2 separate regions of the Homo sapiens genome follow, and region 2 is linked to region 1. Evidence: fine-mapped QTL for protein levels in blood plasma. Region 1 holds a variant in brackets. A gene starts in the other region. All regions are shown on their forward strands. Region 1 overlaps DHRS9 (dehydrogenase/reductase 9). Region 2 holds the start of FETUB (fetuin B).

Evidence for each region. A credible set is the group of variants that fine-mapping cannot tell apart. PIP is the posterior inclusion probability: the model's chance that the variant is causal. The UK Biobank Pharma Proteomics Project read protein levels with antibody pairs (Olink). The fine-mapping took linkage between variants from a reference panel, not from the people measured, so its PIPs are less certain.
Region 2: FETUB starts here. The variant in region 1 is the best candidate, but not a certain one, in a credible set for the plasma level of the FETUB protein (UK Biobank, PIP 0.79).

The regions. Positions count from the first base shown.
Region 1 is chr2:169,073,522-169,081,859 of GRCh38, forward strand. It overlaps DHRS9 (dehydrogenase/reductase 9), which reads left to right. Exons shown (of 5, transcript NM_001376924.1): 2 at 8,002-8,338. The coding sequence starts at 8,061. Among named protein-coding and RNA genes, the nearest start is that of DHRS9, 8.1 kb to the left of the region's middle. The variant G/A (reference allele first, on the strand shown) is at 3,710.
Region 2 is chr3:186,636,300-186,644,637 of GRCh38, forward strand. FETUB (fetuin B) reads left to right here and starts at 4,100. Exons shown (of 7, transcript NM_014375.3): 1 at 4,100-4,386; 2 at 4,731-4,841; 3 at 6,172-6,259. The coding sequence starts at 4,162. It overlaps HRG-AS1 (HRG and FETUB antisense RNA 1), which reads right to left. Exons shown (of 3, transcript NR_187317.1): 2 at 5,655-5,829; 3 at 5,210-5,324.

The DNA of each region.
Region 1 (8,338 bases):
TGGCCACCCACCAAAGGGTACCCCCAGAGGAGCTGGGGGTCAACAGCATGGGGTAAACCTTGAGGGAGGGAACAGATGGGAGGTGATTGGATGAAGAGATTTGGGTGAGGACACAGAGCCAAACCATATCAGCCTCTTATCCTCCTGATGACAAAAAGACATTTTAAAATATTTATATAGAGGGAAATTAATGCTTGCAGCAGCAGGATATGAGTAATTTTTATAAGTAACCCAACTTTTCCATGAGGCCATTAAAAAAAGAAACTCATCAATGTGATACTACCAAGGAACCAATGACTAAGTTTCCAGAAAAGTAGTTCTAGTGCTATGATATTCTGGACTCCCAACACTAGGAAGTTCTAGAACAGTGGTTCTAAACTGGGGGATATTTTGTCCTCCAGGGGACATTTGGCATTATCTGGAGACATTTTTGGTTTTCACAACTTGGGGAGGGGTGCTACTGCTGACTAGAGAGTAGAGGCCAGAGATGCCACTAAACATGCTAAATGCACAGGACTGACCCCACAACAAATAATTACCTGGCCCAAAATATCAAAATTACTCAGTTAGAGGAATCAATGCCTAAATATGAGCAATACATAGAGCAGACTGCCTCATAAAGTGAAAGTGATTCACCCTGCCATGAAGATAACAAAGTTCTTACTGTAACGGCAGACATTAGGTCACTTCACCCAGTACTCTCCAAGGTAGATGTTGTATTTCTACTTTACAGGTAGGAAAATGGAGGCTAAGAAAAGTTAATTTGTCCGAGGGCCCTCTGATGATAGTGAAACTGGGATGGAACCTCTGCCTGCTTGCTTCTGAGGTCTGGGCTCCTAACTACTGCTCTACTGCCTCGAGCCAAGAGATTTACGCCCTATTAAGCAATTTGTTGTGCGATAAATTGGAAGACACAGCAGATAAGCAAACAACTCAAGCAACCAGGTCAGTTCCTGGAGTTTCTGAATTGTTGGGACCAAGGGGCCGTGCAGAGGTAACCACAGCTGGCGTAGTGTGGTTGAGGTAGCCCTATTAGCCTTTTAGTTGCTGTTACTAATTTATTTCTCAGTGGTCAATGAACCAATTGGCCATCAATCAGCTTTGTGTATAGGTCATGTTCCCATGGCTCTGACCCAGGTTGCTGCTCAGAGTTGGCATCGTGGCTAAAATATTACTAGAGGTCAAAGATATGTGTGTGTTTGTGGTTGATTTAGTCGAGTGATCTAGAGGAATCTGAACCAGCATTTCTGGGCAATAATACTTGAGTTAAGGAGAGTGTAGCAAAACTCTAGGTTAGCATTGGCAGTCCCTAGGATTCAGACTGTAGGCCTAAATGACCCTCAGTCCAGAGCTGTACCTAATGAGGACAATACATTTTAATGTGAGTCCATTCTTAACAGCAAAATTTCCTCTTTGCTTGTCACCAGGGAAAAATGGGTTTGCATAGAAAAGGTGGAGATTGAGGGGGAAGCAGAATGGACAAGGAGTAAAGAGGGAATCCAACTACTTAGATTTGAGCTTTCGTTCTTCTTTGGTAGTTGTAGAGGTGAGCTTACCAAAGCATAGATGACAGGCAATGTGGTATACAAGTTACTACACTCCAAAAGTCTGGGGTTCTTACTTATTTTGTGCATGACATCCAAAGTAGCCTAATAAAATCTTTTCACAGAAAAAAAAGCTTTACTTTCCTTTGCCAAATTTTTAACTTTTTATTCTGAAATAATTTCAGAATTATTGAAAAATTTAGAGACTAGGACAACCCAGATTCCTCAAATATTAACACTTTACCACATCTGCCTTCTCATTCCTCTCTATATACATAGGTGCATGTGTGGTTTTAATGTTTATTTATATACATATCATTATTATTTTCTTAACTGTTTGAGAGTAAGTTGAAGACATGATGCTCCTTACTCTTTAAATACTTCAGTGTGTATTTCCTAAAAAGCAGGCCATGTTCTACATCATCACAGTATAATTATCAAAATTGGGAAATTAATATTAATGCAATACTATTTATCAAATTTTAAGATCTTATTCAAATTTCACTTGCTGGCCTAATAATGTTCTTTCTGAAAAAAGAAAAAAAAATTTTGATCCAGGATCACATATTGCATTTGGTTGTTGTATCTCGTTGGTCTCCTTTGATCTGAAATGGTCCTCAGTATTTCTTTTACTTCATGACTTTGATGTTTTTGAAGAGTACAGCCATATATTTAGAAGCACTGGAAGATGTTTCCCCATGCATAATTAGCTTTGGATGCTCCACAGAAGAGCTGTTGTGTCCTTCCCTGTGTGCCATCTCAGGGGGCATGCGATGTTGGTTTGTTCCATAACTAGTGATGTGAATCCTTATCACTTGGTTAAGGTGGTATCCGTCAGATTTCTCCACTATAAAATTACCATTATTCTCTCTTTAATTTGAAAGTATATGACAGGGAGATTCTTTGAGATTCTATAATGACTGTCTGTCATCGGAATTTGACCCACTAGTTTTAGCATCCATTGATCATTCCTGCCTGAAACCATTGTTGCTATGTCAGTTGCCAAATGGTGATATTCTAATTCCATCATTCGTCTGACACTTATTAGATGGCATATTAATTCTAAGGAAAAATTTCCATTTATCCTTATTTATTGATTGATTTACTTCAGAATGGATTCATGAATTCATATCTGATTTAATGAGTTATTACCCATTATCACTATTGGCTTTGATGCTCAAATTGTCTCTTACTTCGCCAGTGGGAGCCCCTTCCAGCTGACATCTATGTACTAGTGATGTATCTCCAGCATTCGTTGAGCACTTACTTACTTGTAGCATAAGATGCTCCAGGCTTATTTTGTACATTCGCCTCCAAGCTCAGCCCTGATGTTAGCTTTTCCAAAGAACATGAACACAATGTTTAGAAATTGGTTTCTGAGCCCTTGGTATGTTCATTGTTGTTGGAGTGTCATTGTTTCTAGCTCATCGGGTAGATCTAGAAAGTTACCTATCCATTTTTGTATTTACTGACTCATATTAAAAACCAGGAGTTCATACTGATTCTTCCAACTATAATCCCACTCCACAGAGTTCATTCCAGCCTCTCCTTTTTCATATTTGCTACTCCTCCTTCTGACAGTGTGAAGCCTGGCTTCCATCATCCACAGCTTAGTTACAGTTGACCCTTAAACAACACAGGGATTGGGGCGCCAGTGCCCCATTCAGTCGAAAATTCATGTATAACTTTTGACTCCCTCAAAACTTAACTCACAGCCTACTGTTGACCAGAAGCCTTACCAAAAACATAGTCAATTAACACATATTTTGTATATGTATTATATACTGTACTCTTATAAACTAGAGAAAAGAAAATATTATTAAGAAAAGCATAAGGAAGATAAAATATACTTACTGTTTTTTAAGTGGAAGTGGATCATCATAATGGTCTTCACCCTTACCATCTTCATGTTGAGTAGGCTGAGGAGGAAAAAAGAAGAGAGGTTGGTCTTATTGTTTCAGGGGTGGCAGAGGCTGAAGAAAATAAGACATAAGTGGATCCAGGCAGTTTGGATCCAATATGGGATCCAACAGCCCACGTTGTTCAGATGTCAGCTGTGCTTATTTTCTCAATCAAATAATTTGAAATAATAGGGTTGTCTGTTTTCTAGCTCTGGTGGAGGCTTGGATTTTATGTGATTCTATTTGTTCTTCTCTTTGAATTGT[G/A]CATAGTTTTTGGAGTACGTCCTAGGAAATTTGGATTGACATGACTGTCACTACTACAGCTACCTCAGAAGTGAGAATAACTTTTTTAACACTTGAAGTGAAATACATAGTATTACAAAAGAAAACTACTGTATTGAAATACATCCAAATATTTATAAGTTTATTTTATTAACATGGTGGCAGGAACAATAACCACCATAATTTTGAAGTAGTAATCAGCATTAATCATATTTTGAGATAATTCCAACAAATGCAATGTAACATGAAAATATTTATTATTTCTATTGGTAACAAAATCACAGGCAATACAAATACTACTGCGGTTTGTTGTTTCTTCCGTAATTGAAGATTGTGCTAAACTTCAATTACAGTTCAGGAAAAAAAAAAAGATGGGATCTTTTTCCCATCCAAATGTAGAAACCCCTGAATTCTATCCACAGACTCTCTCAAAGTTCTAATGGCACCCTTTTGTCTGAGAAGCTTTCATAGATGCCCAAATCATCCATCCAACTGAATTCAATCCCTTAGGGGCTGGTAACCCAGTTTCATGCACAGGAACATGCATGAAACATACCCTCCTTGTGGCTTCCCTTCCCCCATTCCCTCATCTACTTTCCCCTCTGGGACCTTGTGTCAGTTATTATACTATAACAGAGGAGGTTATGAGGGGAGATGACTCTGTAGCCACAACTATTTCAGATGTCAGATGTTGCTTTTGGCCAGTGGACTTTTATCCCTGCCTCTCAGCAATCATGGACAAGATGTGAAGTGTCGACCTTATCAACTCAGCTTGTCAGCTTGGACACTTCTCAGCCCAGCCCAGAGTGGAGTGCTCCAGTCCCCAGAGCCCCTCATCTGTCTCCTATAGTGGAAGGACACAGCACTCTAGTCCCAGTGACCTTGGCAAATCACTTTGTTGCTTTGAGCCAGTTTCTAAGGCAAATAATATGCCCTCTCTAACTCAAAACGCTATTGAGAGGACAAAATGAGACCTGTGTGTGAAAGCACAGCATAGAGTGCCTTACTAATGTATGACATTATTTTACTGTGACTCCCTCGTGCATGCCCCTGGTAAAAATGACAACACAAAAACTTCCAACTCTCTGCTCTAGAGAACATAAAACCCCACAAATATTTGTCTTCTTCAAATAATTCCCCTGGGAGTTTAGACTGCAATGAAAGCTGCAGAATCCATTCAGAAAATATATTAAACATTTCGCCTTTCGGTGATTATTTACTGAAGCCAGATTTGAGCAAAACGCTATATTAGTTGAATTTGTAGATACAAAATTTCCTTAAAAGGTTTAAACATGTAATTTTGCAAGAGTTAGTTATACCACTTCCCCTCCCATAATTATACATTTATAATGTATTTGAGAACGGGAAATCTTGCTACATGGACATTGATTTGCAACAAATTATAACTCTTACACAGAAAAGAGTTGGAAAAACTATACCAAATTATTAAGCCATGGTAATCTAAAAAGTTGACTACTTCAGAAATAGCTGTAGCTATACCACAAGAATCAAGTAGGTTCTCCAAACATATTTTTATATTCCTCTGACTTAATTTTTATCAACTGACTTTTTTTTTTTTTTTTTTTTTTTTTTGTGACAGAGTCTTGCACTGTCGCCAGGGCTGGAGTGCAATGGCATGATCTCGGCTCACTACAACCTCCACCTTCTGGGTTCACGATTCTCCTGCCTGATTCTCCTGCCTGATTCTCCAGCCCTAGCCTCCTGAGTAGCTGGGATTACAGGCACCCTCCACCACACCCAGCTAATTTTTTGTATTTTTAGTAGAGATGGGGTTTCACTATGTTGGCCAGACTGGTCTCAAACTCCAGACCTTGTGATCTGCCCCCCTCTGCCTCCCAAAGTGCTGGGATTACAGGAGTGAGCCACCAGGCCCGGCTGAACTGACAATTCTTTTATCATTTTTTTTTTCTTTAGCTATAGATCTTCTGGGGGAAGAAAGATAAAAGCAGAGCCCGAAATTTTCTTGAGAAGTGAAGAAGACATTACATTGATTTTTTTTAATCTGAAATAGTCTGTTTCTCAAACAGCAGTAAAAATAGTGTGTGTGTGTCTGTGTGTGTGGTGTTTAAAATTCTGTGTGTATGTTTATATTTCTTGATCTAGAAAGAAAACTTTACAAATACAGAAGAAAATGGGGAAAATGCACTAAAATATTGAATCAAGTGTTATAATCATTACTATCTTCTTTTTTTCTATGTTTTTTCTTGAGGATAAATTACTTTTACAAGCAGAAAAAAATAAATGATTTTTGAAAAGGATTCGAAGGAAAAATTAGGAAATAATTGTAAGAAAATAAAGTCCAGGCTGGGCGTGGTGGCTCACGCCTGTAATCCCCGCACTTTGGGAGGCCGAGGCAGGTGGATCACCTGAGGCCAGGAGTTCAAGACAAGCCTGGCCAACATGGAGAAACCCCACCTCTACTAAAAATACAAAAATTAGCCGGGTGCCTGTAATGGTGGCAGGTGCTTGTAATCCCAGCTACTCAGGAAGCTGAGGCATGAAAATCTCTTGAACCCAGGAGGTGGAGGTTGCAATGAGCCGAGATTGCACCACTGCACTCCAGCCTGGGCGACAACAGCGAAATTCCATCTGAAAGAAAGAAAGAAAGAAAGAAAGAGAGAGAGAGAGGGAGGGAGGGAGGGAGGGAGGGGGAGAGAGAGAGAGAGAGAGAGAGAGAGAGAGAGAGAGAGAGAGAGAGAGAGAGAGAGAGAGAGAGAAAGAAAGAAAGAAAGAAAGAAAGAAAGAAAGAAAGAAAGAAAGAAAGAAAGAAAGAAAGAAAGAAAATAAAGTCCAAAGTCTATAAACTCGCTTGGCCTCTCAGTTCCTTTTTGAACTCAGTGTCCAGGAACAGCCATGATTCCAAAAGCACCCACAAGTTCTGAACTTCAACTCAGGGCCTATTGATTGTCCTCTGTGAGGCATTTTAAAGCCCCTCTGGAGTCTCAGGGTGGGTCAAGATTAAGGGCAAAGATATTGCGTGGACACAGGAGGAAGCTTTTTGGGTCATGGAGGAAGAAAATAAGGTCTTTCCCACATGTGGTTCTCTCTTTAGCCCCTCTCCCTTCCACAGGCTCAGAGAGCCAACACAGACCTGCTCCTCTGTGGGGAGGGAGCTGATGATCTCATTCTCTTGGGCTGCCCCATCACTGAGTGTGGAGGGCTGGGCCCATGGTACTCAGACCTGAGGCAGCTGGCCATACAGCCTTGGCACCCAGGCATAAACCTCAGGTTCTTGTTCACTTCCTCTTTCTGGATGGCTTGCTTTTCTCTGGCACCAGTACCCCATGGTAAGAGTAATATATGCTGAGGGGAAACGCAGATGCAGGCTTCTGAAGAAAAAGGAAAGAAAGCCCTCTACCTGCCTGATTTTAGGCCCTAGGCTACCTCTAGCCCTGACAAAATTAATTTTCCAAGTAGTTCTGCTGCACATATGGTCAAAGCTTCCGTTTTACAGCATACATTTGCTTGGCTTTATCCTTTGTCCATGTGATTTTTTTCTCACAGGAGACTGGTGTTCACAGAAGACAGAATTTGGGGATGTGGGAGTCTGGTTTGGGACATGGTGCATTGGCCAGCATTTCCCTCTCAGTCACTTCCCATTTATCTTGCCCTTTCTTGGTGAACTCACTTGTTGCCTCCCACTTTAATACTCATCTGCATTGGGGTGTAATGATCTCAGAGTTGGGTTGAAGATTGACATTAACCCATTTAAAATAAGAAAATGGAAGCCAAGTTGGGAATATCTTAGTGGCAACAAAAAATGCTCTTCTTCTCCTGACAGTTTGAAGATAATTGGGAGTCTGACAGAACAATTAAAATTGAATTATTGTTTCTAATAGATTTTAAGCCCATTCTGCAGTGGAATTTCATGAACTAGCAAGAGGTAAGATTTTACTGTGAGGGTCTGTCTTCCTGATAGACGAGTTCACTCCTGAGATTAATACCATCACTCCACATAGCTCCAGCTGGCCGTGGCAACTCAATGGCTTGTGTCAATTTTGCCATGGCTCCCCTCTCCCTCTCTTCCATTTAATTTCTCTGAATACTCCTTGGTTAGTTTTTGCATTACTTTAGAGGAACGATTTATCATTTAGATGGCCATCTTCCCAACAAACAACCAAATAAGAGTTATTGTTTCTTTAACTTTCTATTTATCCACACTAATGCATTAAAATATCTCAAATTCATCAGTCCTGGGTTATAATGCCTTGGTAGTTCTAATTTGAATTTTCTTTTTCACTTTGAACACTCAGGACACCATCTTCTTGTATTATACAAGAAAGGAGTGTACCTATCACACACAGGGGGAAAAATGCTCTTTTGGGTGCTAGGCCTCCTAATCCTCTGTGGTTTTCTGTGGACTCGTAAAGGAAAACTAAAGATTGAAGACATCACTGATAAGTACATTTTTATCACTGGATGTGACTCGGGCTTTGGAAACTTGGCAGCCAGAACTTTTGATAAAAAGGGATTTCATGTAATCGCTGCCTGTCTGACTGAATCAGGATCAACAGCTTTAAAGGCAGAAACCTCAGAGAGACTTCGTACTGTGCTTCTGGATGTGACCGACCCAGAGAATGTCAAGAGGAC
Region 2 (8,338 bases), not on the chromosome of region 1:
CTAAGGGCAAACTGCATGCCAGGCACTTAGTGTATAAAATCTCCCCTGGTCTTCACGTCCATCCTGTGGATTAGCTGTAGCCTCAGAGAATGTGAGAAACACATCCTTGGACAGACCTGATGAGTGGCGGAGCTGGGATTTGAACCCCTGTGCTCTTAGCCATACCGCCATAGGGATTTGTGGAGGAAATCCCACTTTTGATGCTATAAGGCAGATTTGCCCTAAGAATATTTTTGATTCCGAAAAGTGTTCTCTAAACATTTTGATTTTTTTCCACACATTGTCTAAATATGGCTGATAAAAGTAAGAGGAAGAGGGAGATTCCAAACATAGGATACTTCAGGAAGGAGTCAAGGAGAAACTGCCACAAGGTAGCCCTGAGGCTAGCAGGTGGTTTGGGAGCAGCAAATACTATCCCAATGACAGAGGAGACAGCTGCGAAAGTTGCAAGGACATAGAAAGTAAACGACGTGATTTACAGTTTTCGCCTTTACAGCTCCTGCAGGAAAAGTGAACGCTCTGTTAAATACGCTCCCTGCCTTGTGCCTCAGGCATACTCTGTTCTTCCTTCAAGCTCCAGAGTGAATGTTACCCCCTCTAGGAAGCCTGTCTTGACTTCCCCAGTAGAACTAGTTTCTCCCCTTGGTGCGTTCCTAGCATCCACTCCTTGAGGGCAAGAACCATGCCTTCTTCTCTGAAGCCACATAGGTTGGATGCAAACCCTGGCTGTAAGACCTCAGGCAGGCAATGTAACCTTTCTGTTCCTCAGCCTCCTTATCTGTACAATGGGAATAATAGTGGCACCTACAGGCCTCGGTTGGTCATGGGCTTACATGAGAGAAGGAACACAGAGTGTTTAGCACAGGGCTGGGCACACACTGAGAAATATCAGTTTCATATATAGTGCCGGGCTTTGGCAGTGGTTGGAGGAGATGTTCATTCAGTGTTTGTGGAAGGAAGAAAAGATAAAGGGAGGAAAGGGAAGAGAGAGAGAAACACAGCAACTAGCTGTAGAGACCATCATGTACCAGGCAGCTCCCACCTGGTATTTTGGAGCCATGGCTGCCGTCCAGTTTTGCTAAGTACACATCCTGTCCCCTTAGGCCAAGACTTGGTACCTAGATTTCTAATTCCCCAGATGCCTAATCACGTGTGCTGTGTCTCTCTCAGCTCTGCAGCCAACAATGTCTCACCTGTCTGATCTCTCCCTGTTCTCAAATCAATAATCCTAAGTCACTGCCCTGGATCACACCTGTGTCAGGAGGTGGGCAGGCCAGGGAGCCCCCTGCCTCTCCCTCCTCACTCAGGGAAAATCAGCCTTGTTTCTCCCAACCTGGTTCACCTGGCGATGCATCCATTCAAGTGTAACCAGAAAAAGGCCACTGGCAGAGTCACATAAGAATCTGCACCGTGGGAGACAAAGTGAGGACCACAGGGTACAGTCACAGCACTGACAGCTGTCCTTGGACATTGTCTCTGGACGTCCTGTGCACCAGGGCTGTGCTAAGCACCTTTGCATACTTCCCCTGTGATAAGTCCATATTGCAACCTCAGGAGATGGAGAATCCTGCTACCTTCCTTTTACATGGGAGGAGCCTGAGGCTCCCAAGAGCTAGACCTGGGCTGTCTGATAAGGTACCCACATGCAACTCTTGAGCGTCTTAACTGTGGCTACTCCAAATTGGGGTATGCCATAGTGTGAAACAAAGAATGTAAACTGTGCCTTTCATAATTTTTATGTTAATCACATATTGAAATTATAATATTTTGGATTGACAGGTTAAGCAAAATATTGTTAAAATTAATATCATCTGTTTCTTTTTACTTTTCGAATGCAGATACCAGAAATTTTAAAATTAAATATGTAACTTGCATTGTATTTCTATTAGACACACTGGATTCAACAAAACCTAGATTGATCTATCTCCACAGCCTTGTTCTTCACTCCTGAGCAGAAATTTAACTTCCATGCTGATACTAAAGTTGTTCCCATATGTGATGGGAACCAAACACAAGTGTACCTGGGTTGGGCTTCTAGGGAAAGAGGAACTCTATTCTCTTTCTACAGGCAGGTGCAACTGTGCATGTATACATATGCTGGGAGTGCCATTGTTTTATGAATAAGGAAACAAAATGCTGTGTGGCACACCCAGTGTCACAGGCCCTCTTACCGTGCAGTGGAAGAGGTGGAATTTAAACCCAAGACTGCCTGACACCAAAGGCTGGACTCTTCCCCTGCTTCCTCTCCCAGGGCTCCCATACTCCACAGCCTAGGAGAAGGCCAGCTCAGGTTGTTTGAGACTGGGTTGAAACCCAGGTGCATAAGTGGTGGTGCACGATTTCCATGTTATTGGATCTTTTTATCTGTTTGAGTCCTGCCTTTTATTTTAGTTGCACTCATGGCCTTCACCTATATAAGTCTAATATATTCCTCAGGTCCCAGACCATTCTCCTCCTCTTTGTTCTGCATCCTCAGGCCCCAGATCCTTCTCAACCTCTTTCTGTACGTTGCTCAAGCTCAATGAATGTTTGTCTCCTCACTGGCTGAAGCTAAACCTTTGTTGTGCCCCAGAATCTGAATGTCTGGTTTCTGTACCCATTTTGCTAGTATCGTTCCTATTTGAAAACAATGCCTACAGCCCACATCCACAGAGCTGGGATCTTTAGATTTGGGTTTTTCAATCAATCCTCAAAAACTATTTCTCTCCAGAAATTAATTAGGGCTGTGCCTCAGTTAGTTTTATGTAGTTATAACAGAATATCAGAGACCAGGGAATTTATAATGAACAGAAATTACTTTGGCTCATGGTTTGGGGGGCTGGGAAGTCTAAGATCGAGGGGCTATACCTGCTGAGAGCCTTCATGCTACATCATAACATGGTGGAAGGCATCACACAGGTGAAAGGAAGAGAGAAGGGGACCAAACACATCCTTTTATCAGGAACTCACTTTCAAGATAATGGCATATTCCATTCATGAGGGTGGAGCCCTCATCAGGATAGGATAATCCTCTCAGCATTACACAATAGCCACCACTGTGTACCAGCAAGCACACAGAAGGATTCAGCAGTTCCTAAACTTATTTGAATGCAGAATCCTTGGACAGGGACAGGAAGGAAGAGAAGGGCTAGGAGTAGGGAGAGAGTTAGGGGGTGGTTACTCACCTCATGGACTAGGGCTTTATAGAATGCCCTTCATGATAACCTCTTCTAGAGGCTTCTTTCCCATTTTGTCTCTTTTCTCTCATGACAAACTACTGCTGATATGTGTTTTTTGTTGAAATACAGTTTTTAAAAGATAATTGTCTTTTGTATGGTCCCAATAAGTAGAACCTTTCTGAATCACAAATAGAAGCTAAAAAAAAAAAAAAAAAAAGAAGGCAAGAGTCCCAACCAATGTGTTGCCACCCACCTGCCCTTCAGTATCTTTCTTTTAGCAAGAGTATGGGGCTTTAGTCTCTTAATGAGCTTGCTTCCATACATATGCATAAAAGGAAGAATAGGCTTGAAATACAATGTGAGAACTTTTTATATCTCTTTGACTTTTTCCCCTTAAGTAAAGTCATTGTTTAAAAATAACTTAAATGATGATAAGTAGAACATTTTCCACCCAGATGGCCAAAGTGCTTAAGGAATCTCAACTGTGCTTCTGGCAGATGACTGTGGGGTTCAACTACCTCCCTGATCTAACAAGGGCTTTGCACACAGAGTGTCAGCCAGGAAGTCTGAATTCACCAAGCACCACTGGGACATAAGATAACTATTAGAGTGGCCAAGGAGACCTCCACAGCAAAGGTGTTAGGGGAGAGGGGGAGAATGGGACAGTCCTCCATATTCCTATTCAGGAGGGGACCTGCAAATCAGAATCTAATCATAAGAGCCTTGAACAAATGTTATGATTTCTCAGGAAACAGTTGGGAAACTTAAATTCATTTGTATGTACAGGTGGATATGAGGTTGCTCAAGGGTCTAAGGTTAGAATCATTGGGAAATGCTATCCAAAGTACTGACTTAGGAAAATCCAAGTTCAGAATTCAAGGTGAACTTGGTTAGCCCTTCCAGTTGTAACAAAACCGCTCAAGTCTGCCTTAAAGAGCCTTACAAGCCAGCCAGTCCCTGCAGCTCCACAAACTGACCCATCCTGGGCCTTGTTCTCCACAGAATGGGTCTGCTCCTTCCCCTGGCACTCTGCATCCTAGTCCTGTGCTGCGGAGCAATGTCTCCACCCCAGCTGGCCCTCAACCCCTCGGCTCTGCTCTCCCGGGGCTGCAATGACTCAGATGTGCTGGCAGTTGCAGGCTTTGCCCTGCGGGATATTAACAAAGACAGAAAGGATGGCTATGTGCTGAGACTCAACCGAGTGAACGACGCCCAGGAATACAGACGGGCAAGTAGGGACAGTTCCCACTCTGGGGCAGGGATGTGGGCAAGCTGGAGAGACTGGCCAGGGTGAGGGAACCCAGAGACACCCTGGCAGGTGTTTTCTGTATTGGAAGCCCTGCCGAGAACTCTCTGTTCTCCTCTGCCAGGGTCAGCAACAACGCACTTATTGTTAGTAAAAACAAGTGTTAACAGTGATCCTACTCTGACACTTGTGTCAGATTTAATGGTTTACGGGGAATCTTCACAAATATTCTTTGGCTTTGCCATAAAGCAGGGGTTTTTTTGTGTGGTCTTTCTAGGTTTCTACTTCCTGTGAAATGTATTGCATTTCTCTACCCCTTCCCACAGGGTGGCCTGGGATCTCTGTTCTATCTTACACTGGATGTGCTAGAGACTGACTGCCATGTGCTCAGAAAGAAGGCATGGCAAGACTGTGGAATGAGGATATTTTTTGAATCAGTGAGTGCTTGTTTTTATAAACCATTAAGGGCCCTAGGGAAAGCAAGTAGGTACACTCTTTCTACAGGGTCAAGGGTGCTCAATATCTGTCATCTTTTAAATGGCCCACTTTATAATCTCCTGGCAGGTGCCCATAAGCTTATTCTAATGCTCTAGACAGAACAAAGTTTAATTCATGAGAGGGGTTTCTGAGAAGTCCCATTGGGGTCATGCAGAACAGAATGGAAAAGTTGCCCCAAGTTGTGTTTTTACCTCCAAGACCTTCCGTTAGGCTCTGAACCAGTGTTTCAATTGTGAGAAAAAGACCTGAGGTGTGAATATTCTGGACGTGGGGTTAATGTAGACTGCAGAAGTGATGGAGGTAGAGCTTTGTCTATTTGTTTTATTTTGCTTTGTTTCAATAAACTCCGATGCCAGGTTTGAGGGGAGGAAAATGGATGACTTGCAGTATGAAAGCTCTCAAGGGCGCCGTGTAAGGATTTCCTGAAACCACAGAGCATAATAAAGGGCCTCAGAATTAATCTTCTAAAGATGATCATAGAAGAGACTTGAAAATAGATAATCCATTTCATTTCATTCTTAATTATCCTGGGATGATTTTCAGTAATTGATATAAAACTTTACAGTGTGAGTACAGAATAGTGATGTAAGTGTTTAGAAGAAAACTATTTGATCAAGATATTTTCCTAATCATGTAGCCAATTGGTCAAACTGTACCCAACTTGATTTTGAAAAGTGAATATCCTGTTGTGAATTATATTTGTTATGGTGACACTAGCTACTAAAACACAGACACAAAAACTGTATACTCACTCTAACATGATAGAAGTTCATTTCTCACGCATGTAAAGTTGAAAGTAGAAGTTCCTGATTAGATGGGTGCTTTGCTCCAGGGGTGATTTGAGACCCAAGTTTATTCCACACTCTGGCTCTAGACTCTGCAGCCTCAGCTCACGACTTCCATGGTTACCTGCTCATCTGCATCAAGCTGTGCACAGAGAAAGAGCATAGAGGACAGTGAGAACGTGGGAGACCCTTATGAGCCAGATCTGGAAATGGTTACACCTCACTTCTGCTCACCTTCCTGTGGTTAGAACTCAATTATACACAGTCACACGTGTTGGGGAGGCTTGGAAACATATTCTAGCTGTGTCCTAGGGAAAGGTTAAACAGTTTGATCATCAACTGCAGTTCCTCCCAGCCAAAACCACAGAATTTGATCTTAAGTTTCTAACTACTTTAAAAGAAAATGTCTGACTTTAATTTTGGAGGTATTTTAAAAGCTCATAGTTGCATTCGCTATGTCATAAAATGCATTTGTTGGTTTCAGGTTTATGGTCAATGCAAAGCAATATTTTATATGAACAACCCAAGTAGAGTTCTCTATTTAGCTGCTTATAACTGTACTCTTCGCCCAGGTAAGAAATCACTACGATTTTGTTAGTTTTAATAAAGGATGGAAAAGAGTACTTAACCAGGTCTTTGCCAAGAATGTATAGGGTATCTCTCATTCTTATTTTCTGTTTATTCTTAATGCCAGTTTCTTAATATTTCCAGTACTTACCTCCTTACTGAAATTCATACTATACTGCTCCTCTTCCCACAATTAATCTTACTAAACTACCTCTACATTTATATGCTGCATCAGATCTTACATTTTCAGTCTGACATAAATGGTATAATTTCTATGACTGTTCCCTCAGGCTTCCTTTCTTGCTATCTCTGCCATTATTTCCCAGACTACACCAACTCTTCACTCCATTCTACTGGATGCCACCCTGTTTTCTGAACATGCACTGCAATTTCCAGTCTCTGTGTCTTGCTTGTGCCTCTCCCTCTGCTGAGCATGCCCTCCCCTGATGACCTCTGACCTTGGGACACACCTATTCTTTAAGGACCAACACCACTTCTTCCACAGTGTTCTCTATTCTAGAAAGGAATGGTGCTTTTGTAATCTGCATTCCTATAAAATTTTGTCTAAACTACTCAGGGAACACATAATGCACTGCCTTGATTTGAGGGTCGCATATCTTACATCATGTAGAATAGTTTCTCCTTTCCTCCTCCTGCTGCACCCTTCCTCAGTTCCCACCAAGTAGAAGGTGTCAATAATGTTGTTAAGTAAATAATTGGACTAGAAATGAGGCTGAAACTTAATGACACTTGAAATATGCACATGCATTCATTTGGGACCTTCCTTTTTTCAAGGGAAGGTCTTTGGAAAGAGAGCATCCACAGTGCAGGAAAACAGAATTTGGTCCCCTGTCGAACAACTACGTGCGTGTCGCTCCCCTGGTGGATCCTGTGCAAGTGTAGATTCTGATTCCACAGGTCTTGGTCAGGACCTGAGATCCTGCATCTCTAATAAGCTCCAGGAGATAAGAATGCTGCTGGTTGCTTTGAATAACAAGGCAAGCGAGCAAACATTTTGTTAGGCACAGTTTAAGGTTCCTGGTTGTGAAGGCAAGATTCACAGAACAGCAAGTAGTAAACAGTCTCAGGACTTAAATGGAAGTCATAAGTATCAGAGCTATGGGAGGTCAGGAAGTGACAGGTGGTGATGATTCAGGAGTGACAAGCTGTAGCTGGAAGTCCCCCATTATCTCCACCAGTCCCCAAGTGCATGCAGATAAACACAAAATTTCTAAAAACAATGTGTTTGCTCTGCAAAAGCAGCTTCAAGATAAATTCTGTACCTTGACTTTCACACTAGGCTTATTGACCTCAGCTCCTCCCAAACAGAAATCTGACTGTACTTAATGTGATCATTCTACTCAGTCACACAGTGACTTGACCCATTTTGTTTTCTGGCTCACTTGCATTTTTCTTCTTAAAAAAATATTTAGTCTTATTTTTTATTGATAAATAATAGTTATACCTATTTATGGCATATATAGTGATATTTCCATATATATACTGTATTGTGATCGGATTAGGTTATTAGTATATCCATCATCTCAAACCTTTATCACTTCCTTGTGTCGGGAACATTCAATACCCTTCTAGCTATTTGAAATTTTATCTTATTGTTAACTGTAGTCATCCTACAGTGGTCCAGAACACTAGAATTTATCCCCCTATCTAGCTGTAATTTTGTATCCTTTGACAGATCTCACTTGCATTTCTAACCAAACGGGGTGCGCTTCTGCCTTCTACTATGCCATTCACTTATCCATTCATTCTACAAGCATTTACTAAGCACTGCCTATGTATCAGATATGATGTTCGGTGTTAGGAACTGAAAGGTAAATAAGATATTGCGGTAATGAAATCCCAATCTCTGAAGACAGTCTACTTTACAGGGTCAATAATGAGAAAAGATAGTGAACTAGTTGGAGGAAAAGGTCCTATTTTAATATACTATATTATGTGTCTTTGAACAAAATTCTCAGAGTAAATGTGTGTGAGGTGAAAACTTTGCTTTGTTCTGGTCTCTTTTTTAATTGTGAAAGTAATACATGGTCATTACAGAAAACACTGCTGACAGCTAACTTCTA